Linked DNA regions of Homo sapiens. The protein of the gene in region 3 interacts with the protein of the main gene of each other region in a pairwise test. Each region holds a gene or a part of one and is shown on either strand. Other genes may lie near its edges. The genes, in order: LRRFIP1, MCF2L2, OLIG2 and GOLGA3.

What was found.
Region 1: the proteins of OLIG2 (region 3) and LRRFIP1 interact in a two-hybrid assay, tested with the Homo sapiens proteins (one large-scale study listed by BioGRID and IntAct).
Region 2: the proteins of OLIG2 (region 3) and MCF2L2 interact in a two-hybrid assay, tested with the Homo sapiens proteins (one large-scale study listed by BioGRID and IntAct).
Region 4: the proteins of OLIG2 (region 3) and GOLGA3 interact in a two-hybrid assay, tested with the Homo sapiens proteins (one large-scale study listed by BioGRID and IntAct).

What each region holds. Positions count from the first base shown.
Region 1 is NC_000002.12:237,753,712-237,762,011, forward strand, and holds part of LRRFIP1 (leucine-rich repeat flightless-interacting protein 1), read left to right. Parts: intron 1-2,383; coding exon 2,384-2,476; intron 2,477-3,744; coding exon 3,745-3,837; intron 3,838-5,017; coding exon 5,018-5,110; intron 5,111-6,352; coding exon 6,353-6,494; intron 6,495-8,300.
Region 2 is NC_000003.12:183,174,927-183,182,805, forward strand, and holds the end of MCF2L2 (probable guanine nucleotide exchange factor MCF2L2), read right to left. Parts: intron 5,234-7,879; coding exon 5,145-5,233; intron 4,767-5,144; coding exon 4,651-4,766; intron 4,578-4,650; coding exon 4,454-4,577; 3' UTR 3,115-4,453; downstream 1-3,114. UniProt on the Homo sapiens protein: Probably functions as a guanine nucleotide exchange factor.
Region 3 is NC_000021.9:33,022,540-33,031,360, forward strand, and holds OLIG2 (oligodendrocyte transcription factor 2), read left to right. Parts: upstream 1-3,395; 5' UTR 3,396-3,487; intron 3,488-3,496; exon of another isoform or gene 3,497-3,721; intron 3,722-4,261; 5' UTR 4,262-4,323; coding exon 4,324-5,295; 3' UTR 5,296-6,646; downstream 6,647-8,821. UniProt on the Homo sapiens protein: Required for oligodendrocyte and motor neuron specification in the spinal cord, as well as for the development of somatic motor neurons in the hindbrain. Functions together with ZNF488 to promote oligodendrocyte differentiation.
Region 4 is NC_000012.12:132,773,370-132,776,869, forward strand, and holds part of GOLGA3 (golgin subfamily A member 3), read right to left. Parts: intron 3,388-3,500; coding exon 3,265-3,387; intron 1,937-3,264; coding exon 1,772-1,936; intron 952-1,771; coding exon 788-951; intron 1-787. UniProt on the Homo sapiens protein: Golgi auto-antigen; probably involved in maintaining Golgi structure.

The DNA.
Region 1 (8,300 bases), on a different chromosome or scaffold from region 3:
AGCCTGGAAGGTTGAGGCTGCAGTGAGCTGTGTTGACACCACTGCACTCCAGCTTGGGCAACAGAGAAGACACTGTCTCAAAAAAAAAAAAAAAAAAAGGGAATGGTAGGGTGTGTGTGTGTGTGTGTGTATGTATGTATGTATGTGTGGATATATCGTGTGTATGTATGTATATATAATGTATAATTTACATTATGTATTTTTATATTTTTAAACAATGGCTCTCCGCTTATCCAGGAAATCCAAACATCTGAGAATAAAAGTACCATACTCTTTGCCAAGTGACTTGAAATATTGATACGTATAATTTCAACATGTAAACTGGAGACAGTTTTTCTAGGAGAACATCTAAGCTAAAAGCAAAACCATGAAAAAACATACCTATGAAAGAGCCACCATGCTCAGATAAGGTGCGATCAGATGCTTCAAGATTTTCCTATTCATATGTATTTTCTGATTTTTATTTTGTTCTCTCTCAACACCATAGGGAAATAGTTATGAGTATCAAAGATTTTAAGAAAATTATATTATTTTCTGCTGATTGGGAAAAGACACAGTTACTCTACTTAAGAATTAAATATATCACCAAGCTCAGAGAGAGAGATAGTCTTATCTGAGCTTTCATTAGGAACCACTGGAACTAGTTTGTTAATAGCTGAGATCAGATATAATTTCTATTGAGAGTCTCAAGCATGAGTCATGTGTTAAGATAAGTAATGACAGCGGACTGATTCCACGAAGGCTGGGCTTGGATGTTCTTTAGATAGAAAGCAAGGAATACTTTTTTCATACTTTTAGGAATTGTCCAATTTTTCAGAGATTCTGAGAAAAACAGAAAATGTAATGTGTGAGTGTCGTTGTTGTTGTTGTTTTTAACTGGCTATTATCCTCTAAATCCAAAGGGTTAAAACCAAGGTACCCTTGACAACCTTCAGGCCTGCTTCTTCGACTGCTATAGAATTGAGTTGGAAGCTGAAGAACATTTTACGCACAAAGTTCCTTATAGCTGAACTCTGCAAGAGGGGAGCTTTTCACAAGACTGATGTCATGTGGGAACGGAGGAGTGGAGAGCACAGCCCAGCCCCCCTTCGGGTGGGGGCCTGTAATGCATATGCATTCCTCCTGGAATGCTGTCATTAGGCATCATTCAGTGGACTGAAAACTCCCGAGTCTCACTCCAGAGAAGCTGGATGGTGCTAGAATGCTGTCCCGAGATGGACACAGGGGCCATGCAAAGCCCCACAGGAGGGCCCTTGTCATAGCCAGGAGGGCACCAGCCACCCCCAAGCTAAAGGAAGTGGGCGAACAGAAGTGCCAGGGTGAGCAGAAGCTCAGGCCAGATCCCATCTCAGATCACCCGCCTGACAGGTCTAGGGAAGGAGCGTCCTGCAGGCCTGTAAGCTGTCAGCAAAGTGAGTTGGGTCTCAGGCCGTCACCAGGGATTGCGCTGCTGTGACTGGGCAGGAACACAGCAGAGCCGAGCTGCCAGCTTCCTGGGCTGAGCCTCAGGTGGGGAGGCCAGGCCTGAGGAGCAGCTAGGTTTTGCAGGCTCTCCATTTGCTCCCCCAAACTCTCCTGTTTTTGTCTCTTAAGGGGCAGCCCTGAAGCACAGAGCTGGCCACCAGCTGTTCATGAGAGATGCTTTAGTAGGCCATGTTTATCTCCTTTTTATCCCAAAGAGTTTTCCTTGTCATATTTCAGCAGGGGCCATTTTATGGTAAGTCCTTGCAGGGCAGCCTCACCCAGGCTCTCAGCACAGTGCTGTGGAAGACACCAGGCTCCCTGGGGGGGCCCTTCGTCGGCTCTTGCTTCACTGTAGATAAGAAATCAGAAAATCCTTGTTGATTGCATCAACTCCTCAGGTTAATTTGACAGTAAGTCATCAGGCATCATCTATAAAGTCCAGAGGAATCTGTTTGTGTTGTTTGAAAGGGCTTGAAGGCCAGGTGCAGTGGCTCATGCCTGTAATCCCAACACTTTGGGAGGCTGGGGCAGGTGGATCGCTTGAGGTCAAGAGTTTGAGACCAGTTTGGCCAACATGGTGAAACCCGATCTCTACCAAAAATAGAAAAATTAGCCGGGCATGGAGGCAGGCGCCTGTATTCCCAGCTACTTGGGAGGCTGAGGCAGCAGAATCGCTTGAACCCAGGAGGCAGAGGTTGCAGTGAGCTGAGATCGCACCACTGTACTCCAGCCTGGACAACAGAGCAAGACTCCATCTCAAAAAAATATATAAATAAAAAATAAAATAAAAGACCTTGAAGATTGTGATGATGTAGTAGCAGGTGATTTGTTCCACAGAAACTATAAATCGTGAGAGCCTGAACTGGCATGCCAGAAACATGGGATTCCACTGCTTTAGTGCTGTTTTTCTCCTTTACAGGAATTTGAAAGGGAAAAACACGCCCACAGTATACTGCAATTTCAGTTTGCTGAAGTCAAGGAGGCCCTGAAGCAAAGAGAGGAAATGCTCGAGGTAGGTAGCATTCTCCTGCTTTTCTTTTCCTTTTTTCCCTTTGGAGCATTTTGTCAGGCCATGACTATCTTAGCTTAGGCTGCAGTAATAAAATACCATACACAGCATGGCTTAAACAACAGAAATTAATTTTCTTACAATTCTGGAGGCTGGGAGTCCAAGATCAAGGTTGGGTTCAGGTGAGGCCTCTCTTCCTGGCCTGCAGACAGCCACCTTCTTGCTATATCCTTCCTCCAACGGTGGAGAAAAAGCAATGTCTCTGATGTCTCTTCATATAAGGACACTAATCCTATTTGATCAGGACCCCACTCTTATGACCTCATTTAACCTTAATTACTTCGTAAAAACCCTATCTCCAAATACAGTCACATTGGGCATTAGGGCTTCAACAGATGAATTTAGAGGGACACAATTCATTCCATGGCAATTACTAAAGTTTTCAGTTTTCTTAAATCTGAGAGTTTAGGCTAACTCTCCATCCCTAGATTTACGAAACAGTCCCTCTCATTGGTGAACATTCCTATTCTTTGGTGATCTTGTATTTGTTTGGGGAGGTGTGGTAGACAGAATAATGGTCCCCCGAAGTTGCCTACATCCAGATCCCTGGAAACTGTAAATATGATGCCTTACATGGTTAAAGGGCCCCTGCAGTTGTGATGAGAGACCTTGAGAGAAGGGATTATCCTGGATTATTTGATGGAACAAGCATCCTTCTAAGAGGAAGGCAACTCAAAGGCAGAAGTAGAAGATGTGACACAGGAAGCTGAGGTTGGAGCGATGCGAGAGAGGGGCCATGAGCCAAGGAAAGCAGCTCAGTCTTAGAAGCTGAAAAAGGCAGGGAAACAGATTCTCCCTAGAGCCTTCCAGAAAGGCTTGATTTTAGCCCATAAGACTCATTTTGGACTTCTGACCTCTAGAATTGCAAGAGAATAAATTTGTGTTTTAAGCTGCTGAATTTATGACGATTCATTACAATGGCAATAAGAAACTAATACAGGGTTGGTTTTTAATTTTTTGACTTAATCGGTTCTTTAACTGCTGCCTTGAAGTGAGAATTTCACCCAAAGCAGGTTTTCTTCCTGCACTTCTTGAAGCCGGAAGTAGGACAAGGAAAAAAATCCTAGAATGCTGACAATGAGTTCAGGGTTGATGAGGTGAAAGAGTGCTTGCGGCCTCACTCACTGTCCCAGCTCTCAGGTTCTCTCTCGGGCTGGGGTTTTTCTTCCTCTTTAACCCTTTATCTGCTTTCTGTCTGTTCCTTTCCTCAGGAAATCCGACAGCTACAGCAGAAACAGGCGAGTTCTATCAGGGAGATTTCTGATCTTCAGGAAACAATAGAGTGGAAAGACAAAAAGATAGGGGTAGGATTCCCAAGTCTTGAAAATCTACTCAAATGGGCAGCCTGCTTAGCAAATAGAGTTTTTTCAGAGTCTTTAGTTTGCAAAACCGCTTGTCTGAGTATGCATGCAACTCCCACGTGACACAAAGTCGTATTAATTTATTTAATTTTATTAAGTAGTGAATACACTAACTTATCCAAATTGATATGAACTTGGATTGTGACACGGACTCTCCATGGAGGGTCTTGTGAATGCGTAGCTGTGCGCTCTGCCTGCCCCGTGGCTGGGCCGGGCCGGTGGTTGTTGAAACAGCTGGAGTGAGGAGGACACTCTGAGGAGGTCTGATGTGTGCAAGTCCAGACGTCTTGGGATTATCTGCCTGGTGGTGCTTTGAGAAAAAAAATCTAAGCACCACCAGGCAGATATCCCCACTTTGAAATCTTCCCCAGGGAAGGTCTCCACATACCCTTCTCCCTCCACAAGAAGAAAAGAGGCAGTTCTACACTTAGAATTGAAGGATAGGGGGAACAGAACCCCACAAAGTAGTTGTCATGATTGGTAACAACAAATGGTTTCCCCAAAATGGTGATTCCTACACATAGCTCTAATAAAGACGTCGAGATACCTGCACAAACCATCGGCACGTTGACTCAAGCCACACTGTGTTTCCACTGTCACGCTCATCAGCACTTAGGAGTGTGTGTGTGTGTGTGTGTGTCTGCATGCACGCACACTTTAGGACCACTTCATTTATCTGAGATGATGGATACCAAGAATCAGTGTATAAAAATAGTCTAAATGGCTACAACAGCCGTCCTGGGAGGTGCTTAAGCAATCCCTTTTCTTTACTGACCCCTCATTCAAGTGGAGACTTTGCGTAACTCTAACGCAGCTGTGAACACGCAGACAAAGCTAGAAAGTGATGCAAATATAGTAACCTCTGGGGCCCCGTGCTGTGTCCGTGTGCTTCAAGATGCGCATGTCTTTCATGGAGTATGAACAGTAACATTTCTTGGATTATATATACTAAGCGAAAAGCTTAATACTTGGATTTTGTTAGTATCTTTAGGCAGAGTCTCTTTAATGTCTAGAGTCCACTAGTGTTTTAGATGGTAGAAGCCTCCTTCTGGTTCCTGCTTCTGAAGTAACTTGCTCATCTGTGCAAATCTTCTTCTTTCTCTTGGCTCTGCTGCACACTCAGGCATTAGAGAGGCAGAAAGAGTTCTTTGATTCCGTAAGGAGTGAACGGGATGATCTTAGAGAAGAAGTAGTCATGCTGAAAGAGGAATTAAAGGTATGAAGCCAAACTACAGTTTTATTTAAAAAAAAAGAAAAAAAATCCAGGTGACAACAGCAAATTTTGGGATGCTGTGAATATGTGTGTACATAATTCATTTTATGTCATTTAGTTCTGTTAATAATTCATATATTGGGTTAACTGACAGCGATGAGATGTAAAATAAATGTAGGTTCAGTGGGTGGTGCCCAAGGCCTTTTGATGTTAATAAACATAGCCAATCTTGAATGCAAGAATTTTTTGATACATTATCTAAATTTTTCTCATACTCACTAGTAAATTCTCCAGGATATTACTCAGACTTAGAGAATTAATTTGCCTCTTTATATTAAAACCCCCAATTTAAGGACTTCTCTAGAGGAACAGTGACTTGGGTAAGTGGTTTGGGCAAGGATCCCGCTAATTAGACTTTGAGACCTACTAGATTACAGGTGGAAGACGGTTCCCTGTCCTTGGTGGGCCACGCCAAGGCGTCTTCAGCCGCTGCTTGACACAGGTGAAGCGCCAGTGGCAGCACTCTGGGTGGGGGGGTTCCTGAACCGTCACCATCTGCTGCTTGGCCTCCAGGGTCAAAGCCAGAGCAGTGAGCCAGCCAGCTACAGGCTTAGAGCTAAGATTCGTAATTCTGCTCCTTGAAGAGGCGATCAGTTCAGGGGAGTTCCTCACACACAAGGGAGAGAGAGCCACAGGCGGCAGGAGGGCATGGGTGAGTGATGTCTGCAGTTGGGAAGTGCTGCTGTTTTCAGTGAATTCTGTTTCTTTTGAATATACTGAACATTCTAGCCACCTCTGAATTCCTTCTTTAACATAAGTTTCGTGTGTCTCTTTCAGAACATGTATATATTTCTTTCTTTATCTGGTTTCTCTTTTTAAAGAATGCAATCAGGGTTTTGAAATGAAAGGTCACTTGGCAGTGACTTGCTTACTGCTCCACTTGGGGGCAGCCCACAGGCCACTACCTGTAGTTAAAAAGGATGCCTGGTGGAAGTAGCTTGTCACCAGCAAATGAAAGCATGGATTGGAACATCTGAGAAAGAAGTAGCCTTTGGAGGACGATATCCCAGATTTGTGTGTGTTGACCGAATATTTACGAGTGCTGCACCCTAGCATTTCTCTTGTCTCTGTGGAGTTACCCTGTACTTCAGGAAAAAATGGTTTTCTTTTTTATTATTGTATTAAAACAGAGTTTAACCTAATATCACTGAGTAAATATTACGATGAGCCTATTTTTGTTCCCAGAAACATGGAATAATCCTAAATTCAGAAATAGCTACCAATGGAGAGACTTCCGACACCCTCAATAATGTTGGATACCAAGGTCCTACCAAGATGACAAAAGAAGAGTTAAATGCCCTCAAGTCGACAGGGGATGGGACCCTAGGTAAGTATTTGCTTTCCTTCGGCTCCTCACACCTTTCCACTCAGCATTGGTTCACCCTCCATGCACTGCTGGGGTTGGAGCCACCGTCGCTGATGGGTTAACAGTCACCAGCATGCCATTTGTTTCATCACTTCATGGTAATTTCCTTGCCCACCCGGTGTGGTCACCCACGTGTTGTCTGGCATGCATCTCTGTGTAGTGCACCATCAATGGCTCAAGTGAACCTTTTCTTTTGCTGCTCAAAGCTACCAAGCAAGACTGTGAAGGCAAAAGGAAAACAGTCTCAAAATTAAGTAACAATGTGGAGAGTACTATTTGGTTTTCCTCAGACACATATATATCTGTACCTATAAAGTGTGGCTTTTTAAACCGATTCTATGACAGAATTATCAAAAGATCAGAATGGTTGAGGCCGTCAAGTCAGTTGGCCATATTTGCAAGCCAACATCGACATCCTGGGCAGCATTCAGCGCTTTGAGGGTACGGGGTGCCTGTGGACAGCAGGTCCGTCTGTGTTGCCTTTTTCAAGCCACCGCTCGAGGTGGGCAGGCGGCCGTGGTAGTGGGTGTGGCGGTGCTGAGAGTCTGAGTATGCCCACCTTTGTCAGAGGGGATCCTCCTTTGTATGCCACGTGTTTGCTTCTGAAAGAATATAAAACTGGGGAATCCAGTAGATCAGAGGAATATTTTATACCATTTTCAATGATCTGATTTGTCATAATTTGTCATAAGAGTTGGCTTTGGGAGAAACCTTCAGATTCTGGCGTGCAGCCTGAAGTTGCAGCGTGCAAGTGAGGCCTCATCTGTCACTGGTCACCCTCTGCGTTCCAGTGTTTTACAAAGAGGCTGGAATAAGGTCAGGGTCCGTGACTTTTCATTTTAATGTAGAAGCTTTCATCTTATTTCTTTTTATTTATGGAAATGTAGACACCTCCAGGCCCCATCTTCTCAGGCCTCGCATTCCAGGGAGGTACCTCATTCATTATCTTTATGACTATTAAAGAAACACAGCTCTTTTCAATTGTGTAAAAAAAGTTGTGGCCTAGTGCAGTGGCTCACACTTCTAATCCCAGCGCTGCGGGTGGCCAAGGCTGGAGGATCACTTAAGACCAGGAATTCCAGGCCAGCCTGGCAACCTAGCAAGATTCCGTCTCTAGATAGGTATGTAGTATCTATATACCGTTGTTGAGAAAAGATAAATTAATCAATTTCCATCATACCTTTATATGAGCTACCCGAACAGCTAGGAATCTGATTACGCTGCTCTTACTCAAATACACATTTTATAAATCTTTGATAACCATTGTGAAATGTTGTAAGAACCAGAAATGTCAGTTTTGAAAGTGGCCTTCAAATGACTTTTGATCACATATTCCTTCAGCAAAGAATTGTAGGATCCAATATGTATGTTTATTTTAAATCTACATATGTATACTATTTCATTAATATAAAATGTACGTTATAAAATATATGCAAAGATATGCAAAGAAGTTTTAGAGTAAAACTCTAAATAGAATTCCTAATATTTCCCCCATTTTCCCTGGGATATGGGCACCCCACCATGGAGATCACTGGGCTATAAAATTATCTAGCTTTGACTTTCAGTAACATAGTACCATATCTAATCTGCTGGGGTTTTGTTTGGAGAGTCCAAAAATTCCAAAACAGTTTGATGTTCTTTAGACGATGAATAATTTATCATTTAATTTAGTGGTCATCTTGATCTTGAACATTTGCCTCCTGCTGGTCCTCTCTCCCTAGTCCCTTAGGGAATGGAGCAGAGGTATCAGGGCATGGACACAGGGTG
Region 2 (7,879 bases), on a different chromosome or scaffold from region 3:
TTGGCTGCATCAGTGCTCTACACGTTCAGAGAAACTTCTCTAGTGACGAACTATAGAAATGATCCCTGAAAGTATAGTCTTAGGACTATATTTTCTTTTGACTTGGGAGGCATGTTTATTGCTGTTAATGCTGCAAAGGGCTCTACGTGCTTTAAAAAATCCCAATCTGTTGCATTCATAAGCCTGGGTTGGATCTAAAGCAGCCTCCCACTTTTGGAAAGGCATCCCCACGACCTTTCCATGGTTGCTGAATGCAGCTGGAGGCAGTCACAGCTGGTGATGTCCGGAGCCCATTCCCCACTGTGCTGGTCTGCAGAACTTCTGCATGCCATTCCCACAAGCAGGTCTCTGCCCTGCTCTCCTCCACCTCCCTTGTCAGAGGAAGTCTGCACTTCACAGCTTTCTGGTCTCAACCCTCCTCCATCCCTACAGATGTGTAAGCAGCAGGAATCAAAAGGTGAAGGAGAGGGGGCAACTCACCTCCGATGGACACGTGAAAAGTGGGAGATGGATAAAATCAAGAAGGAGCTTAAGATATCCAGAAATGTAAACTGTGTTTGGAAAAGTAAGGTCAGGAGAAGCATGGGACTCCTGAGGTTGCTCCCTACTATCTTGCAGACTTGCTGCAGGACCAAATGAAGCAGGATCTGTCAAGCACCAGGGCCAGCTCTTAAGCTTAGTGCCTTTCTGAACCCTGTGACCCAGCAGCCTCCATCAACTCGTCCTACCTGCCATGCACAGCTCCTCTGTGCCCCTGTACCTGAGCTCATGCTATTCCCTCTGCCAGGATGCCCTTCTCCTTCTCCACCAGGAGAAGAACACTTGCCAGTAAGACCCAGTTCTAATGTCACCCCTTCCTGACGGTATCAGGAAGAGTCAGTGATGGTGTTTTATGCTCCCAGAGAATTTGCCACATTGTGTTGTGATTATTTTTCCACATCTGTCTCCCCCACTGGAATGAGAGCCTCACTCATCTTCATACCTCCCTGGTCTCTACCTGGTGCCAGAACCATCCTCAGGGCAGGGGAATGCTCAGGAAATAGATATTGAATAAAATAAGTGTATCCATCCATCCATCCATCCATCCTTCCATCCATCCAGACATATATACATATGTAAACATTCTGATGGTCAAATGGAACAATGTGGGCTGAAGAATAATGCAGGTAGAAGAACCTAAGATTACAGATTCTTGATTTGGGAGGAACTTTATTTTATTGTGCAAACAGTCTACAAATTTGAAACATACTCTATCAAGAAAGACACTGTTGTTAGGAAAGGGCGTGGGAGAGGGTGGCCCCACAAAACAGTGTAAAGTTCTAAAGAATTTGAGAGGAACACTCTGCGGGACCCTGTTCCAAGGGCATCTTTCTAAGAGTCTGTCCCTTAGGCTCTGCCCCTTTTTGGCCACGTTGTCAAAGGCCTTCTTTATGAACGAAGTGAGACACATTATTTTTGTTTTCTTGAATTCTAAAGTGATTGTCTTGAGTTCCCTGGGGGAGACTCCTGGGAGGTGTGGCCCACTCTATTCCAGAAACAAACCAGGAGACTGAAGACTCATCCCAATCCCATATCCCATGAAAATGTGAAATCAAATCACCCCTGACAATTCCAAAACTAACGGAATCCTAACATAACTCTATGTAACTCTAAAGCTGAGTGTGCTGGTAATTAAGCTTCCAGCCCACCCTTCCCAGCTCTGGGGTGCAGGGTCACCATGGGCTCCTTCCTGTGTGCACCCCACCCCACCCCCACTGTCAGCATCCTGTCTCCACCCTGAGAGTGACAGCTGGTTCCAGTAGCGGGAGTTGGTTCCAGCTTGCCATTTTCCTAGCACTCCTATAACCAGCCTGCTGATGCCCATTCAGAGACAGCAGCACGGGCTGGCCATGTCCCCTCTCCAGAATTCTGCGTCCAGCTCCTGGACCTTGAGCTCTGAGCCCTTGGGCCACGTGTACAATTAATAGTGCCTCCTCCTCAGAGGACTAACCCCCAGCCCTAGGGCCACCTTCATATTTCTGAGTTTTGATATTTTCAACCTCTTTTCTTTGTTGTATGAGTCCTTGGGCTGGGAGCTTGCAGTCAAAATCTTCATGATATCTCATTATCACTACTTTTTTTTAAATCTCTACTAGCTGGATAACAATTATTTATATTAAATTCTCTCTTGAAATAACTGATACAGTGTCTCTTGATTGAAACTTGACTAGTAGACTAAGAATTCTAACTCTAAATAATTCTGAGGGCCGGGTGTGGTGGCTCACACCTGTAATCCCAGCACTTTGGGAGGCCAACGCGAATGGATCACCTGAGGTCAGGAGTTGGAGACCAGCCTGGCAAACATGGCGAAACCCGGTCAGGAGATCCAGACCATCCTGGCTAACATGGTGAAACCTCATCTTTACTTAAAAAAAAAAAAAAATACAAAACAAAATTAGCCAGGCGTGGTGGCAGATGCCTGTAGTCCCAGCTATTCAGGAGGCTGAGACAGGAGAATAGCGTGAACCCGGGAGGTGGAGCTTGCAGTGAGCCGAGATTGCACCACTGCACTCCAGCCTGGGTGACAGAGAGAGACTCCGTCTCAACAACAACAACAACAAATTAGCCGGGCATGGTGGCAGGTGCCTGTAATCTCAACTACTTGGGAGGCTGAGGTAGGAGAATTGCTTGAACCCGGGAGGCGGAGGTTGCAGTGAGCCAAGATTGCGGCACTTCACTCCAGCCTGGGTGACAAGAGCAAAACTCCATCTCAAAAAAAAAAAAAAAGAAAAAAAAATCTGACAATTAAATAAAGAACAGAAAAAAAATTTGAATGGCAAATACAAAGCTGAAAAGAAATAACTGAGAATAAATAACTCTGAAAATAGCTCAAAAACTAAATACCTCAAAAACTCTTTAAAAATTCAGAAAATATAATGTTCAAATATGAAGTAATGCTGAAAATGAAATAACTAAAAACCAAGTAACTTGAAAAAAAGAACATAAAAATAAACAACTCAAATATAAAATAACTGAAAATAAATACCTGTGAACATAAGCAACTCGAAAACCAGATAACTAGGGGAAACCCTTCATTAAAACATTTCACTCTGAAAATAAATAACTTGACAGTAGTTCATGAACTTCCAGTGAGTGTTTAATAGTCAAATAAGTTACTGTAAAAATAAATAACTCAAAAACTCCAATAAGATAAAGTGAAATAACTATGAAGGTAAATAACTCAGATAATAATTGTAAAGATAATTAAAAATAAATTCCGGCTGGGCGCGGTGGCTCACGCCTGTAATCCCAGCACTTTGGGAGGCCGAGGCAGGGGGATCACGAGGTCAGGAGATCGAGACCATCCTGGCTAACACGGGGAAACCCCGTCTCTACTAAAAATCCAAATAAAAAATTAGCCGGGCGTGGTGGCGGGCGCCTGTAGTCCCAGCTACTCAGGAGGCTGAGGCAGGAGAATGGCGTGAACCCGGGAGGCGGTTTGCAGTGAGCCGAGATCACACCACTGCACTCCAGCCTGGGCGACAGAGCGAGACTCCGTCTCGAAAAATAAATAAATAAATAAATAAATAAATTCCAAGCAAATTAATTTGAACATCTGTAACTCCTAAAACAAAACAACTACATATAAATAACTGAAAATGAACAACTAAATAACTTTGAAAATAAAGTAACTATAAACCAGTAACTGAAACTATAAAATTAAATAACCAGAAAGCTACAAAGAAATGAAAATCAACTAATAAAACTAAAAATAAAATACAACTGAAACTAACAAAACTCATTTAAAAACTAATAAATCGATACATAAAATACCTCAGAAAGTAACTTGGAACGAACTCTCTCTACAACGAAGCAATCTTGGCACTAACACGAACACCCCATGAACGCTCGCAGGGATGCTGGGAGGCGGACCGGGAGCTCCCAGTCTGCGGCCCCCGCCGGGTTGGAGCGGCTCCGGCTCCTCCAAGGCTCGGGCTAAGCGGCTCTCAACCGATTCCCACCCCGCCCTGGAGAAATGCGGGCGTGTCTGCAGGCATTTTTGATTGTCACGATTTGGGGGCGGGGTGGAGGATGGGGTGGCGCATTCCTGGCACCTAGTGGGTAGAGGCCAGGGGTGCTACTAAACATCCTACCGTGGGAGCACAGAGAAGCCCACGCAGCAAAGAATTGCCCGGCTCCGAATATCGAAGTGCGCGGTCGAGAAGGCGTGGGCTGCGGGCTCTGCTCGCCTCTGCAGGCGCCTTAGAGCAGCTCCGAGGTCCCCCGTGCGGAGCTAGGCGCGCACCCAGGACACCCCTCGGGCTCCTCGGAGGAGGCCCTGGTTGTCCCCTTTCTGCCGCCGCCGAGGCTCCGGCTGCTTTCTGCGTAGCTGGGCAGGGCCCGGGCCCCCACACCGCCTCTCCCGGGAATGCGGGCGCTCTGGAGCCGAGGAGCGGGGGCGTCCGCAGGGAGGTCAGCTCTCCTGGGCGGAGGTCCTCGGGCGCAGCGCCCTCGCCTGGAAACCAGCCGTCGCCCCCGCAGGAGCCAGCCGGCCCGTGGACGCCCCAGCGCGCTCCTCCTCGGTGCTGCGGGTCGCCCTGCAATTCCGAGAAGAAAGTCAGAGACGCCGTGGCCCAAAGAGGCGCTTAGTCTTTCCTCGCTCACACTCACGTTTCCTCCTCATCGCGTTCTTCTTTTTCTCCCTGGCTGCTTTCTCCCCTCTCCAGGAAAGCAGATTTGGAGGAACAGGTTTCGTGACTGTCGTCCGACTGGAAAAGGCCCGCGAGCTGGAAGGGAGGGGACGGGTGCACCCTCAGAGTTATTGCTGGAGGCTGTGGCCAGACCGGGCAAGGTGGTGACTCCCGCTGGCAGGCTGAGGCCCACCCCAGCCCTCCCACCTGGGCCACGGGGCTCTCAGCGGGAGCCCCAGTTATGACCGGACACCAGCGCACCGCCAAGGAGACAGCCACGTGGGGACATGCTGGACTAGGAGGGTCAGAGCCAGTTTGAGGGTCTGGTGACCTCGGCTCCCTGGCTTAACCAGGTCCTTATGGGTGAGAATCCTGAGGAGGGGGAGAGGGATGGAGGCTAGGGACAGGAGGCAGGAGGAGCTGATGAATAGGAAGGAGGGAAGAAGATGAAAGAAACAAAAGGGAAGTAATTACACTCAGAGCACTGCTCTCCTTTTCCATGTCTTCTGCGCCTTCACAGTCTTCAAAGGTGTCCATGGAGCTAAACTCCCTGCTGGAGCAGCCTTAGGGAGAGAAAGGGAAGGATGGGGCCTCTGTGGGGTGGGAGGACATCCCCTCTGCCCATGGCAGGGTGTAGCAGGCAGTGCCTGTTGCAGGCACGGTCCTCCCCATCTCTAACTCCTGCTCTCCAAGGGCCTGCACTGCGCTGGGCTGTGAGGGGGTCTGTGATCTCCAGGCTGCTTTTCCAGCGCCGAGATGCCGTAATTCACCGAGAAGGCGCGTCCACATGCTGTTCATGGCCCTACCTCCCCGTTCCTCCAAGAAAACAGTCATTGTTTTTTGTGTTTGCCAGTCTTCTAACCACGCCTCCTTCCCTTCCTCCTCCCCTGTCTCTTTCTCACCCTCCCCTCCTTGCCTCCTTTTCTCTCCCCTAATTAATGTCCATTTCCCATCTCCCTGGCAGCCTCTGCCAAGTGTCACTGCTCCCCATAAGGGAAAATCAGAGGAACAAGCAAGTGCATCCATCCTGCCTCTCTCTGCAGTGAACTGATTAATTAATCCATCAGTCTTGTCTATGGCGCACATGTTACATCCCTGGGGCGGTGTTGGACACTGTGGGGAACAGCAGCCACTGCCAAATACTGAACAACTGCCCTGTGCCTGGTGGTATGTTAGGCATTTGTCAAAGTTTAAGCCTCACAACCCTGTAAGGGTCTCAGCCCCCTTTACAGTTGGGGAAACAGACAGCAATGGTCACTTGGCCAAGTCCTCTTGGCCTGTGGCAGGGCAGCTGTCTTCTCCAGCACTCCTGCTCTTTACCCTCGCTCTGAGTGAGATGGAGTCTCTGCCCCACATGGCTCACAAGCCAGGGTAGGGAGCAGAGCATCTGCAGAAAGGTCCCAACACAGGACAGCCCCAGACCGAGGGTCAGCTGAGTAGTCTACGCGGCGGGAGCCGTGCTAGGAAAGTGTCTGCTCAGGCGAGAATTCAGGGAGGTTTGGGCAGGACTTGAGGGGCAGACAGGACTGGAGAGGGAGGGCATTCTGGGCAGAGGCATGGCCAGAGGGCGGTAGGCGGCAGTGGAGGGAGCTGCAGTTATCTGGGTGAGCAGGCAGCACAAGTAGCGTCTCCTGGGCTGCTGCCCCAAGCCCCCAACAAGCCACGTTCTGGGCCCCAGGCCCTCCCCAGAGCAGATCAGTGGGGGCTGTGTGAGTAACATGGGGGCGGGGGGGCAGCTGGGCAGCACCTCCCTGGAGGCCCCTCTGAAATCCTGCCTGACTCTGGCAGGCTCCGAGGGGGCTGGACACCCTCCTCTCAGGTTGAAGCAAGTCCTGGTTGAGTTCCTAGTCCCAGGAGGTGGGAGGGGCAAGGGGTGGAGGGCAGAGGAGAAACTGCCTCAGGGATGTGCCCCCTGCCTTCATCCTCCAGACAGGACTTGGGAGCATCTAAGGAAACCCAAGACTCCTCTTTAGAGAAGTCATCCAGCCCTGGGGTCCCCTTATGCCAGGAGCAAGCAGTGAGAATGGAAGAATGATTGTCTTGCTGAAAGTTCTGTGATGGAGGGATAGAGGGACAGAGGGAGCCATGCCCTTGACCATCCCCTGCATGAATAGGAAGGGCTGTGTCTCCAGGGTCCATGGCCTCTGTGCCCCGGATGATGCCAGGGCTGCTAGGGACCATAGAGCCACCCACTGGGAGGCTGGCGGTTGGGCCTGGCTCAGGAGCCTTCGTCAGCCATAGGCAGCCACAGCCTGGGGTGGGCAGGGCTGGGAGGCGACACAGGAACTGAAAAACCTGACAAGCTCTAGCCCCTCCGCAGGGTAAGTGGTACCTCCAGGTAAAATGATTAGTTGGTTCCAGCCCCTCTGCAGGGTAAGTGGCACCTGGGGTAAAATGACTGCCTGGAGCTGGCAGCTGCTTTCCCTGCTCTCGCGGGCCCTGCAGGGAAGCGGGGAAGGGAAGGGGGCACAGCGCTGGGCACAGAGGGGCTCTCAGACCCTGGACTCAACTGTTTCAGGGTCATCTGAAACAGTCAACTGTTTCCTCTAGCCCATTCCCTGCCTCCAGGCGAGGATTTGCCTGAACGTGGAAAGAGGAAGGATCCTCCCAGTGCTGTCAACCCCAGATTCCACCTCCCTGTGGGGGACTGTCAGCGCAGGCCCTGACAACGCAGAGAAAGACACAGGACCCACCTGGGCCAGTGACAGCAGGAGCTCCGGGTGCCACAGGTGAGGGTGGGGATGCCTGGAGCACCACGGGGGGCCTGGTTTAGTCTAGAGCCAGGTTTTCCATACACCTTAGAGTGCAACCTCAGGGAGATGCAAATTTTACCCCCTAACACAGCATACACGCAGAAACACATTTATACAATTCAAACACAAGCGGACGGAACAATATTTACCCTTAGAGTGTGTGAAGTCCTCATCTGTCCCACCTCATCCTATCATGCTTTGTTCTATCCTAGGAGACAAAGCAGGAGGGGGGGCTGCGGAGGTGGGGGAGTCTCATCCAAGCCCTTGGGTGACACGTCTCTCCTGAGACAAACTGCAGCTGCTCTGGGTGTGCCCTCGCCTGTCTCCCTCCAGGCCCCGGGTTCCTGCCAGCAGAGACAGTAACCTATTCACCAGGTATCCCCCAGGGCTCCTGGAAGAAACTCAGAATTCTCAGAACCAGAAAACCTTAGAGAGCATCCTGCAGGCAAAGCCCCT
Region 3 (8,821 bases):
GCACGTGTGTGCATTCGGCAGTATTTACCAAGCACCTGCCAAGTGCCAGGGCCTGTCCTCCGCACCCGGCGTGAACTGTCCTGGACCAGTCCCGGGAGCCGCGGTTCTGACCAGCCGTGCTGACCCTGGACGACTCCATGAGCTGTTTTGTGAGAAAGACACGCCATTTGTTTGCAGAGTTCTGACTTCTGAGGGGTCATGTAGCACATGTTTGGTAGCCAAACGCTGTCATTCACGACCAGGAGCGATGGCTGCAATGCCTTTTTCTTTGCTTTGCTTTCCGGTGCCGGGAGCCTTGCCTCCCGCCGCCACCCCTGGTCAGCTCTGCGCAAGAACGTCGTTCTGTTTGGCAGCCAGGCCGAGACGCAGCCTGAATGTGAGCAGGAACTCGGAGAAGGGAAGGGAGAGAATCAGAAAGAAGGCCCGGGAGGGACCCGGGAAGCAGTGGGAGGTCTGCGCCCTGGAGCCCCGCGAGAGCCCGCCGGTTTGGCACGGGCTCCTCCCGGGCCGCCCGGCGGTCCAACAAAGGCCGGCCCCGACACGCACCCGGTCTTTTGTGGGAGAGAAACACAAAGAAGAGGGAAAAACACGGAGGAGGCCAACAGCACCAGGACGCGGGGGCCAACCAGGAACTCCCGGAGCCGGGGCCCATTAGCCTCTGCAAATGAGCACTCCATTCCCCAGGAAGGGGCCCCAGCTGCGCGCGCTGGTGGGAACCGCAGTGCCTGGGACCCGCCCAGGTCGCCCACCCCGGGCGCCGGGCGCAGGACCCGGACAAGTCCTGGGGACGCCTCCAGGACGCACCAGGGCAAGCTTGGGCACCGGGATCTAATTTCTAGTTATTCCTGGGACGGGGTGGGGAGGCATAGGAGACACACCGAGAGGTACTCAGCATCCGATTGGCACCAGGGCCAAGGGAGCCCAGGGGCGACACAGACCTCCCCGACCTCCCAAGCTACTCCGGCGACGGGAGGATGTTGAGGGAAGCCTGCCAGGTGAAGAAGGGGCCAGCAGCAGCACAGAGCTTCCGACTTTGCCTTCCAGGCTCTAGACTCGCGCCATGCCAAGACGGGCCCCTCGACTTTCACCCCTGACTCCCAACTCCAGCCACTGGACCGAGCGCGCAAAGAACCTGAGACCGCTTGCTCTCACCGCCGCAAGTCGGTCGCAGGACAGACACCAGTGGGCAGCAACAAAAAAAGAAACCGGGTTCCGGGACACGTGCCGGCGGCTGGACTAACCTCAGCGGCTGCAACCAAGGAGCGCGCACGTTGCGCCTGCTGGTGTTTATTAGCTACACTGGCAGGCGCACAACTCCGCGCCCCGACTGGTGGCCCCACAGCGCGCACCACACATGGCCTCGCTGCTGTTGGCGGGGTAGGCCCGAAGGAGGCATCTACAAATGCCCGAGCCCTTTCTGATCCCCACCCCCCCGCTCCCTGCGTCGTCCGAGTGACAGATTCTACTAATTGAACGGTTATGGGTCATCCTTGTAACCGTTGGACGACATAACACCACGCTTCAGTTCTTCATGTTTTAAATACATATTTAACGGATGGCTGCAGAGCCAGCTGGGAAACACGCGGATTGAAAAATAATGCTCCAGAAGGCACGAGACTGGGGCGAAGGCGAGAGCGGGCTGGGCTTCTAGCGGAGACCGCAGAGGGAGACATATCTCAGAACTAGGGGCAATAACGTGGGTTTCTCTTTGTATTTGTTTATTTTGTAACTTTGCTACTTGAAGACCAATTATTTACTATGCTAATTTGTTTGCTTGTTTTTAAAACCGTACTTGCACAGTAAAAGTTCCCCAACAACGGAAGTAACCCGACGTTCCTCACACTCCCTAGGAGACTGTGTGCGTGTGTGCCCGCGCGTGCGCTCACAGTGTCAAGTGCTAGCATCCGAGATCTGCAGAAACAAATGTCTGAATTCGAAATGTATGGGTGTGAGAAATTCAGCTCGGGGAAGAGATTAGGGACTGGGGGAGACAGGTGGCTGCCTGTACTATAAGGAACCGCCAACGCCAGCATCTGTAGTCCAAGCAGGGCTGCTCTGTAAAGGCTTAGCAATTTTTTCTGTAGGCTTGCTGCACACGGTCTCTGGCTTTTCCCATCTGTAAAATGGGTGAATGCATCCGTACCTCAGCTACCTCCGTGAGGTGCTTCTCCAGTTCGGGCTTAATTCCTCATCGTCAAGAGTTTTCAGGTTTCAGAGCCAGCCTGCAATCGGTAAAACATGTCCCAACGCGGTCGCGAGTGGTTCCATCTCGCTGTCTGGCCCACAGCGTGGAGAAGCCTTGCCCAGGCCTGAAACTTCTCTTTGCAGTTCCAGAAAGCAGGCGACTGGGACGGAAGGCTCTTTGCTAACCTTTTACAGCGGAGCCCTGCTTGGACTACAGATGCCAGCGTTGCCCCTGCCCCAAGGCGTGTGGTGATCACAAAGACGACACTGAAAATACTTACTATCATCCGGCTCCCCTGCTAATAAATGGAGGGGTGTTTAACTACAGGCACGACCCTGCCCTTGTGCTAGCGCGGTTACCGTGCGGAAATAACTCGTCCCTGTACCCACACCATCCTCAACCTAAAGGAGAGTTGTGAATTCTTTCAAAACACTCTTCTGGAGTCCGTCCCCTCCCTCCTTGCCCGCCCTCTACCCCTCAAGTCCCTGCCCCCAGCTGGGGGCGCTACCGGCTGCCGTCGGAGCTGCAGCCACGGCCATCTCCTAGACGCGCGAGTAGAGCACCAAGATAGTGGGGACTTTGTGCCTGGGCATCGTTTACATTTGGGGCGCCAAATGCCCACGTGTTGATGAAACCAGTGAGATGGGAACAGGCGGCGGGAAACCAGACAGAGGAAGAGCTAGGGAGGAGACCCCAGCCCCGGATCCTGGGTCGCCAGGGTTTTCCGCGCGCATCCCAAAAGGTGCGGCTGCGTGGGGCATCAGGTTAGTTTGTTAGACTCTGCAGAGTCTCCAAACCATCCCATCCCCCAACCTGACTCTGTGGTGGCCGTATTTTTTACAGAAATTTGACCACGTTCCCTTTCTCCCTTGGTCCCAAGCGCGCTCAGCCCTCCCTCCATCCCCCTTGAGCCGCCCTTCTCCTCCCCCTCGCCTCCTCGGGTCCCTCCTCCAGTCCCTCCCCAAGAATCTCCCGGCCACGGGCGCCCATTGGTTGTGCGCAGGGAGGAGGCGTGTGCCCGGCCTGGCGAGTTTCATTGAGCGGAATTAGCCCGGATGACATCAGCTTCCCAGCCCCCCGGCGGGCCCAGCTCATTGGCGAGGCAGCCCCTCCAGGACACGCACATTGTTCCCCGCCCCCGCCCCCGCCACCGCTGCCGCCGTCGCCGCTGCCACCGGGCTATAAAAACCGGCCGAGCCCCTAAAGGTGCGGATGCTTATTATAGATCGACGCGACACCAGCGCCCGGTGCCAGGTTCTCCCCTGAGGCTTTTCGGAGCGAGCTCCTCAAATCGCATCCAGAGTAAGTGTCCCCGCCCCACAGCAGCCGCAGCCTAGATCCCAGGGACAGACTCTCCTCAACTCGGCTGTGACCCAGAATGCTCCGATACAGGGGGTCTGGATCCCTACTCTGCGGGCCATTTCTCCAGAGCGACTTTGCTCTTCTGTCCTCCCCACACTCACCGCTGCATCTCCCTCACCAAAAGCGAGAAGTCGGAGCGACAACAGCTCTTTCTGCCCAAGCCCCAGTCAGCTGGTGAGCTCCCCGTGGTCTCCAGATGCAGCACATGGACTCTGGGCCCCGCGCCGGCTCTGGGTGCATGTGCGTGTGCGTGTGTTTGCTGCGTGGTGTCGATGGAGATAAGGTGGATCCGTTTGAGGAACCAAATCATTAGTTCTCTATCTAGATCTCCATTCTCCCCAAAGAAAGGCCCTCACTTCCCACTCGTTTATTCCAGCCCGGGGGCTCAGTTTTCCCACACCTAACTGAAAGCCCGAAGCCTCTAGAATGCCACCCGCACCCCGAGGGTCACCAACGCTCCCTGAAATAACCTGTTGCATGAGAGCAGAGGGGAGATAGAGAGAGCTTAATTATAGGTACCCGCGTGCAGCTAAAAGGAGGGCCAGAGATAGTAGCGAGGGGGACGAGGAGCCACGGGCCACCTGTGCCGGGACCCCGCGCTGTGGTACTGCGGTGCAGGCGGGAGCAGCTTTTCTGTCTCTCACTGACTCACTCTCTCTCTCTCTCCCTCTCTCTCTCTCTCATTCTCTCTCTTTTCTCCTCCTCTCCTGGAAGTTTTCGGGTCCGAGGGAAGGAGGACCCTGCGAAAGCTGCGACGACTATCTTCCCCTGGGGCCATGGACTCGGACGCCAGCCTGGTGTCCAGCCGCCCGTCGTCGCCAGAGCCCGATGACCTTTTTCTGCCGGCCCGGAGTAAGGGCAGCAGCGGCAGCGCCTTCACTGGGGGCACCGTGTCCTCGTCCACCCCGAGTGACTGCCCGCCGGAGCTGAGCGCCGAGCTGCGCGGCGCTATGGGCTCTGCGGGCGCGCATCCTGGGGACAAGCTAGGAGGCAGTGGCTTCAAGTCATCCTCGTCCAGCACCTCGTCGTCTACGTCGTCGGCGGCTGCGTCGTCCACCAAGAAGGACAAGAAGCAAATGACAGAGCCGGAGCTGCAGCAGCTGCGTCTCAAGATCAACAGCCGCGAGCGCAAGCGCATGCACGACCTCAACATCGCCATGGATGGCCTCCGCGAGGTCATGCCGTACGCACACGGCCCTTCGGTGCGCAAGCTTTCCAAGATCGCCACGCTGCTGCTGGCGCGCAACTACATCCTCATGCTCACCAACTCGCTGGAGGAGATGAAGCGACTGGTGAGCGAGATCTACGGGGGCCACCACGCTGGCTTCCACCCGTCGGCCTGCGGCGGCCTGGCGCACTCCGCGCCCCTGCCCGCCGCCACCGCGCACCCGGCAGCAGCAGCGCACGCCGCACATCACCCCGCGGTGCACCACCCCATCCTGCCGCCCGCCGCCGCAGCGGCTGCTGCCGCCGCTGCAGCCGCGGCTGTGTCCAGCGCCTCTCTGCCCGGATCCGGGCTGCCGTCGGTCGGCTCCATCCGTCCACCGCACGGCCTACTCAAGTCTCCGTCTGCTGCCGCGGCCGCCCCGCTGGGGGGCGGGGGCGGCGGCAGTGGGGCGAGCGGGGGCTTCCAGCACTGGGGCGGCATGCCCTGCCCCTGCAGCATGTGCCAGGTGCCGCCGCCGCACCACCACGTGTCGGCTATGGGCGCCGGCAGCCTGCCGCGCCTCACCTCCGACGCCAAGTGAGCCGACTGGCGCCGGCGCGTTCTGGCGACAGGGGAGCCAGGGGCCGCGGGGAAGCGAGGACTGGCCTGCGCTGGGCTCGGGAGCTCTGTCGCGAGGAGGGGCGCAGGACCATGGACTGGGGGTGGGGCATGGTGGGGATTCCAGCATCTGCGAACCCAAGCAATGGGGGCGCCCACAGAGCAGTGGGGAGTGAGGGGATGTTCTCTCCGGGACCTGATCGAGCGCTGTCTGGCTTTAACCTGAGCTGGTCCAGTAGACATCGTTTTATGAAAAGGTACCGCTGTGTGCATTCCTCACTAGAACTCATCCGACCCCCGACCCCCACCTCCGGGAAAAGATTCTAAAAACTTCTTTCCCTGAGAGCGTGGCCTGACTTGCAGACTCGGCTTGGGCAGCACTTCGGGGGGGGAGGGGGTGTTATGGGAGGGGGACACATTGGGGCCTTGCTCCTCTTCCTCCTTTCTTGGCGGGTGGGAGACTCCGGGTAGCCGCACTGCAGAAGCAACAGCCCGACCGCGCCCTCCAGGGTCGTCCCTGGCCCAAGGCCAGGGGCCACAAGTTAGTTGGAAGCCGGCGTTCGGTATCAGAAGCGCTGATGGTCATATCCAATCTCAATATCTGGGTCAATCCACACCCTCTTAGAACTGTGGCCGTTCCTCCCTGTCTCTCGTTGATTTGGGAGAATATGGTTTTCTAATAAATCTGTGGATGTTCCTTCTTCAACAGTATGAGCAAGTTTATAGACATTCAGAGTAGAACCACTTGTGGATTGGAATAACCCAAAACTGCCGATTTCAGGGGCGGGTGCATTGTAGTTATTATTTTAAAATAGAAACTACCCCACCGACTCATCTTTCCTTCTCTAAGCACAAAGTGATTTGGTTATTTTGGTACCTGAGAACGTAACAGAATTAAAAGGCAGTTGCTGTGGAAACAGTTTGGGTTATTTGGGGGTTCTGTTGGCTTTTTAAAATTTTCTTTTTTGGATGTGTAAATTTATCAATGATGAGGTAAGTGCGCAATGCTAAGCTGTTTGCTCACGTGACTGCCAGCCCCATCGGAGTCTAAGCCGGCTTTCCTCTATTTTGGTTTATTTTTGCCACGTTTAACACAAATGGTAAACTCCTCCACGTGCTTCCTGCGTTCCGTGCAAGCCGCCTCGGCGCTGCCTGCGTTGCAAACTGGGCTTTGTAGCGTCTGCCGTGTAACACCCTTCCTCTGATCGCACCGCCCCTCGCAGAGAGTGTATCATCTGTTTTATTTTTGTAAAAACAAAGTGCTAAATAATATTTATTACTTGTTTGGTTGCAAAAACGGAATAAATGACTGAGTGTTGAGATTTTAAATAAAATTTAAAGTAAAGTCGGGGGATTTCCATCCGTGTGCCACCCCGAAAAGGGGTTCAGGACGCGATACCTTGGGACCGGATTTGGGGATCGTTCCCCCAGTTTGGCACTAGAGACACACATGCATTATCTTTCAAACATGTTCCGGGCAAATCCTCCGGGTCTTTTTCACAACTTGCTTGTCCTTATTTTTATTTTCTGACGCCTAACCCGGAACTGCCTTTCTCTTCAGTTGAGTATTGAGCTCCTTTATAAGCAGACATTTCCTTCCCGGAGCATCGGACTTTGGGACTTGCAGGGTGAGGGCTGCGCCTTTGGCTGGGGGTCTGGGCTCTCAGGAGTCCTCTACTGCTCGATTTTTAGATTTTTATTTCCTTTCTGCTCAGAGGCGGTCTCCCGTCACCACCTTCCCCCTGCGGGTTTCCTTGGCTTCAGCTGCGGACCTGGATTCTGCGGAGCCGTAGCGTTCCCAGCAAAGCGCTTGGGGAGTGCTTGGTGCAGAATCTACTAACCCTTCCATTCCTTTTCAGCCATCTCCACTACCCTCCCCCAGCGGCCACCCCCGCCTTGAGCTGCAAAGGATCAGGTGCTCCGCACCTCTGGAGGAGCACTGGCAGCGCTTTGGCCTCTGTGCTCTTTCCTGGGGTCACCTCTGTCTCCTCTTGGCCATTGGGTTCTCACAATCCAAACCCGCGATGCAAATTTAGGATGTGGCTGTGAAGAGAGATTCTGGGTGGAAATAAAAATACTTTGGCCTTCCTGGTCAAGGACCAGGGCAGATCCTGTTGTAGTCTCCGTGCCCCAGGGCTGGCCTGAGAATGAGCCCCTGAAAAGACAGCGGGTACGGGCACCGTAAGAACATCCCCTGGTCCAGGGTCCTCTCTCTGACAATATTTTTGGTGGCCACTGGCCACCCTGGAACTGGGGGTGCAGAAGATTTCCCCAGTCAGAACCCCATTTCTTGAGTCGCATAGCTGAGCCTGGCTCACACAGGCAGGCACCCTTTGCTTAGACTTAAAGACTGCTCCGTCCCCTAGCAAGGGACAGGCACTTCCTGCTCCTCCAGCAGGGAATGTCGGACTGCTGGCCAGAACAGCAGTGGCCCAGGGATTGGGTGCTGGAGGCCTAGTTTTTCACCGATGGGCCTGGCTTTTTGCAAAGGCTGGGAGGGATTTGGAGAGGCTGAGCAGCTGGGGGCTGAAGACGGGTGGAAAGCCTCCTGCCCCCACCACCCCAACAGCGCCATGTGAATCCAAGAAGAAGGAAGGGCAGGGTGTAGTCGTTTTTATTCTGAAATCCCATTTGAAATGAAACTTGAAAAGAATTCAAAACTGGGTCCAGCTGCAGCCACAGACACACTCAGAGGGACTCCAGGAGGCTGGAACGTAGACCAGTGGGCGCTGAGAACCTGGCCGGTGGGGGTAGGGGTCTTGATTGCAGTTTTGGCTCTTCCACACCCACTGCCAGGCAGGTGTACTGGTGCAGGCTCTGAGTGTGCTTGGTGTCTGCATAGAAGGACGGTTGTTGAAAGGCAATAAATCAAGTCTTTCCCTCCACCCCTGCACCCAAGCTTTCAGTAGCAACCAGCCACCAGCCAGGCCAGGCAAGACCAGGGCCTCTGAAGAAGGAGGGGCTGTGTCCAGCCAGGCTTTGGGCCCTCCTCCATGCCAGCCGCCTAAACTGTGCACCCAGCTGGAGGCCTTGACCACGGTGGGTGAGACTGGAGCAGCTCTGGACGTGGAGGAGGAAGACACTGGCACACAGTGCACATCCCCTAGAACAGGTGGCTACTCGCCGAGGGTGGCCCTGGACTGGTGGGGGCCAAGGTAGAGGACTCAGCCAGTGGCTGGGCTTTGATGTAGGGCAGGAGAAGACTGTGTGCAACCACTTTGACTTTGGTGGGCTCTTCATTGGCAGTGGGCTCCTCACCAAGTAGGGAAGGGAAAGAGGTAACTGTTTCCGGGATCTGCTGCAGTCTTCCCTGCCACACTGCAGTCCCCTCTGGGGAGCATTCGTTGGGAGATTCTCAACAGGCTGGACTGCAGCTCAGCCTCCTCCCCAGCCCCACTGCGTGGCTCTGCAGCACCCCAGCTGTCAGCCTCCGAGTTTAGAAACTCACCATGCCCCAGGTCTTTGAGACTCCCCAACCCTCCTTAAGAACCTGGGAGCTGGCCGGGGCG
Region 4 (3,500 bases), on a different chromosome or scaffold from region 3:
ACTCGCTAGCACCTGAGTGGACCGGGGCGCCTTCGGGGATCCGCAAACCAACTGAGACCACAGAAGCTCAGCTGTTCTCAGCACCGTTCTCTACACTGTGCAGAGGACACAGGCTCAAGGACCAGTCCTGACCAGGCGGCAGGGTGGAAGCTGTCACTGAGGCCTGGCACACACGACTTCCACTCCGTTACCTGCCCTCGGGGCGCCGCCTGGCTCCGCCCTACACACTTCGCTCAGCCTCAGGCTGCCAGGTGCACCATGTGTGGCCTTCCAGCTTCTCAGGGCCTATCAGGGTAGTTTAACTCCAGGCAGTTTCCACCTATGAGTTCACAGGCTGTGTGTGCGAGTTCCCCCACCTTTATATAAACCTCAGAGGCTGTGCGAGTCCCCCTCCCACTTTATATAAACCGCAGAGGCTGTGTGAGTCCCCCTCCCCCTTTATATAAACCTCAGAGGCTGTGCGAGTCCCCCTCCCCCTTTATATAAACCGCAGAGGCTGTGAGTCCCTCCCCCTTTATATAAACCACAGAGGCTGTGCGAGTCCCCCTCCCCCTTTATATAAACCTCAGAGGCTGAGTCCTTCCCCCTTTATATAAACCTCAAAGGCTGTGTGTGCAAGTCCCTCCCTTATATAAACCTCAGAGGCTATGTATGCGAGTCCCCCACCCTTATATAAACCTGCTGAAACTCTGCTGGGCACTCAGTACTGGCACCAGGAGTGCCCTCCCAGGTAAGAGGGCATTAATCTTTAAGACTAGCTGAAGTGCAGCACGGAATACGGTCGTACTTGAGCTGCTGGAGGCAGCTGTTCAGGTTCTTGAGGGGCTCCTTGCTCACGGCGGGCGGTGGTCTCAGCAGCTCCTCCAGCAGCGAGGCGGGAACTGGGCAGTCCGGGATCTTGATGGGCGTGGCAGGGTTGGAAGAGCTGGCCTCGCCTTTCGGCTCCTTTCTCTGTTTTTAAAAGCACATGATCAGCTTTCCCACCGTCCCCTCCCTCGGGTCAGTCTCACTAGCACAGCTTGTGGCAAACGGGCCTCCCCAACTGGTGGACGTGGGGCCTCTGGGAAGGGGACCGTCCTGGCCGCCGTGGCAGCCCAGCACGACAGTCCCCGGAGCTCCAGAATAGCTGGCTGAGGAAACACCTTTATTCCTAAGGCACAAAACCAGAGCAAAGCAGAGACAACCTAAGTCCTGGGTCTGCGGCAGGACGGGGCCGAGCCACAGACTACAGCTCTCCCAGACGCTTCTCCCATCAGATACTCAAGACCTTGATGTGGAATTTCCGTAAGAAATTAAGTAAGTTTTCCAGCTTAGGCTCCCTTTTCTGGGACTTCAAACTTTTTCCACAGATAAGCACACGACGCTAAACGGCCTCTCAATCCGAGCGCTGCCCTCCCACCTGCCTCCTGGAAAACATGGATGTGGACCGAGCACAGAAAACCGCCGGGCGCCTGGGCACAGCTCCCGGGCCCCAGCCCTTCACACACAGCAGGGACTGCCGAGTCACAGACCACCGCTCATCTGCTTTACAAAGCACATTACAACAAAGTGGTATTTGAATTCACAGAACGAGGAAAACACTGTTGGATGAATGAAACCAGAATGAAATGATTTCATCTGTCACCCCATTACCACTGACTACACAGCAGCTGCTCAGTGTGGGCTCAACAAATCCGTTTATGTCTGAATGACTAACACGTCTGCCAGCCTCCTGTCCGAGAGCATCTACAGCGCACGTCGGCTACCCCGGGAGGGACGCGGGCCTGAGTACCGTCTTGGCCGCGCCGCGGCGTAGGTCCAGCTTGAGCTGCTGGTTCTGCTGGAGCAGGGTCTTCATGTTGTTCTTCAGCTCCGACACTTTTGCCTGGAGCATAAATTTATCCTTCTGGGTCATGGACAGGTCTTCCTGGGCCATCTCCAACTCAGACTTGACGTTCTGTGGAAAATGAAGTCAGATTTTTAAAAGCTAACAGATCTTAAACATCCTGCCAAGATCCGAGTTTGTATTTTCATAGGTTAAGCACACACATGTCCTCCTCGGCGCCATCTAGATGATGCCAGTCCAGGTCCAAAATGCTCAGGACCAGAAGTGTGTCAAATTTTGGAATTTTGAATATTTGCGTTACAACTACCAGCTGAGTATCCACAATCCAAAAATTTGAAATGTTCCAATGATCATTTCCTTTATCATGTTGATGCTCAGAAAGTTTCAGATTTTGGATTTTTGTTCTTGTTTTTTTTAGACACAGGGTCTCACTCTGTCATCCAGGCTGGAGTGCAGTGGTCCAACCACAGCTCACTGCCTAAGTGCTGGGACTACAGGTGTGAGCCACCAGGCCTGGCCAGGTTTTGGATTTCTGGATGATGGACGCTTGTCGGCCTGTGTCTATAAATAAATTCTCACTGTAACTCAAGCCCCTCATTTACAAGGGGAACTTAGCAATTACACTCCTTTCCCGAGCAGTCAAGACCGAACCCTGAGTTCTTTGTTGAGAAGTTTATCGCAAATTGGCAAACTTTTCCCACGCACCCTCCCATTTGCTGTAGTCCATGAAATCACGTTCTTGGTCCGTGACACACAGCGCGGCCAAGGGATCGGAGCCGGCCCAGGCTTCGCCCCTGCCTCTGTCCTGCCGCATGACGTGGACCAGGTGGCTTTGCGAGCGCCCCACTGGACGAGGGCGCCAGCTCCCCGGGAGCACTGCCTGGCCGCAGGCCGCATGGCACAGGAACCAGGGGCTGCCCCAGAAGTGGTGCTCCCGCCTGTGTCCAGCACCTCATACACAGGTACCTGCAGCAGCTGCTGTAGCCCCTCCAGCTCCTTCCTCCCTGCTGCTCCCGCCTGTGTCCAGCACCTCATACACAGGTACCTGCAGCAGCTGCTGTAGCCCCTCCAGCTCCTTCCTGCCCTGCTGCTCCCGCCTGTGCCCAGCGCCTCAGATACAGGTACCTGCAGCAGCTGCTGTAGCCCCTCCAGCTCCTTCCTCCCTGCTGCTCCCGCCTGTACCCAGAGCCTCACACAGGTACCCGCAGCAGCTGCTGTAGCCCCTCCAGCTCCTTCCTCCCTGCTGCTCCCGCCTGTACCCAGCGCCTCACACACAGGTACCCGCAGCAGCTGCTGTAGCCCCTCCAGTTCCTTCCTCCCTGCTGCTCCCGCCTGTGCCCAGCGCCTCACACACAGGTACCCGCAGCAGCTGCTGTAGCCCCTCCAGCTCCTTCCTCCCTGCTGCTCCCGCCTGTGCCCAGCGCCTCACACACAGGTACCTGCAGCAGCTGCTGTAGCCCTTCCAGTTCCTTCCTGCCCTGCTGCTCCGTCAAGTCCAGCTGCTGCTTCAAGGACTGGATTTCTCTTTCTTTCTGATCCACCTCCCATTTGAGATTTTCCATCTAAAGAGGGGAAAGTCACATGGCCAAAAGAATATTAAAGTGGCTTTACTGCCCTGGAAAATGGCTCTAGCTGTGTTTTGGTTTATCTTTTAATACCATATTCAGAAAACCAT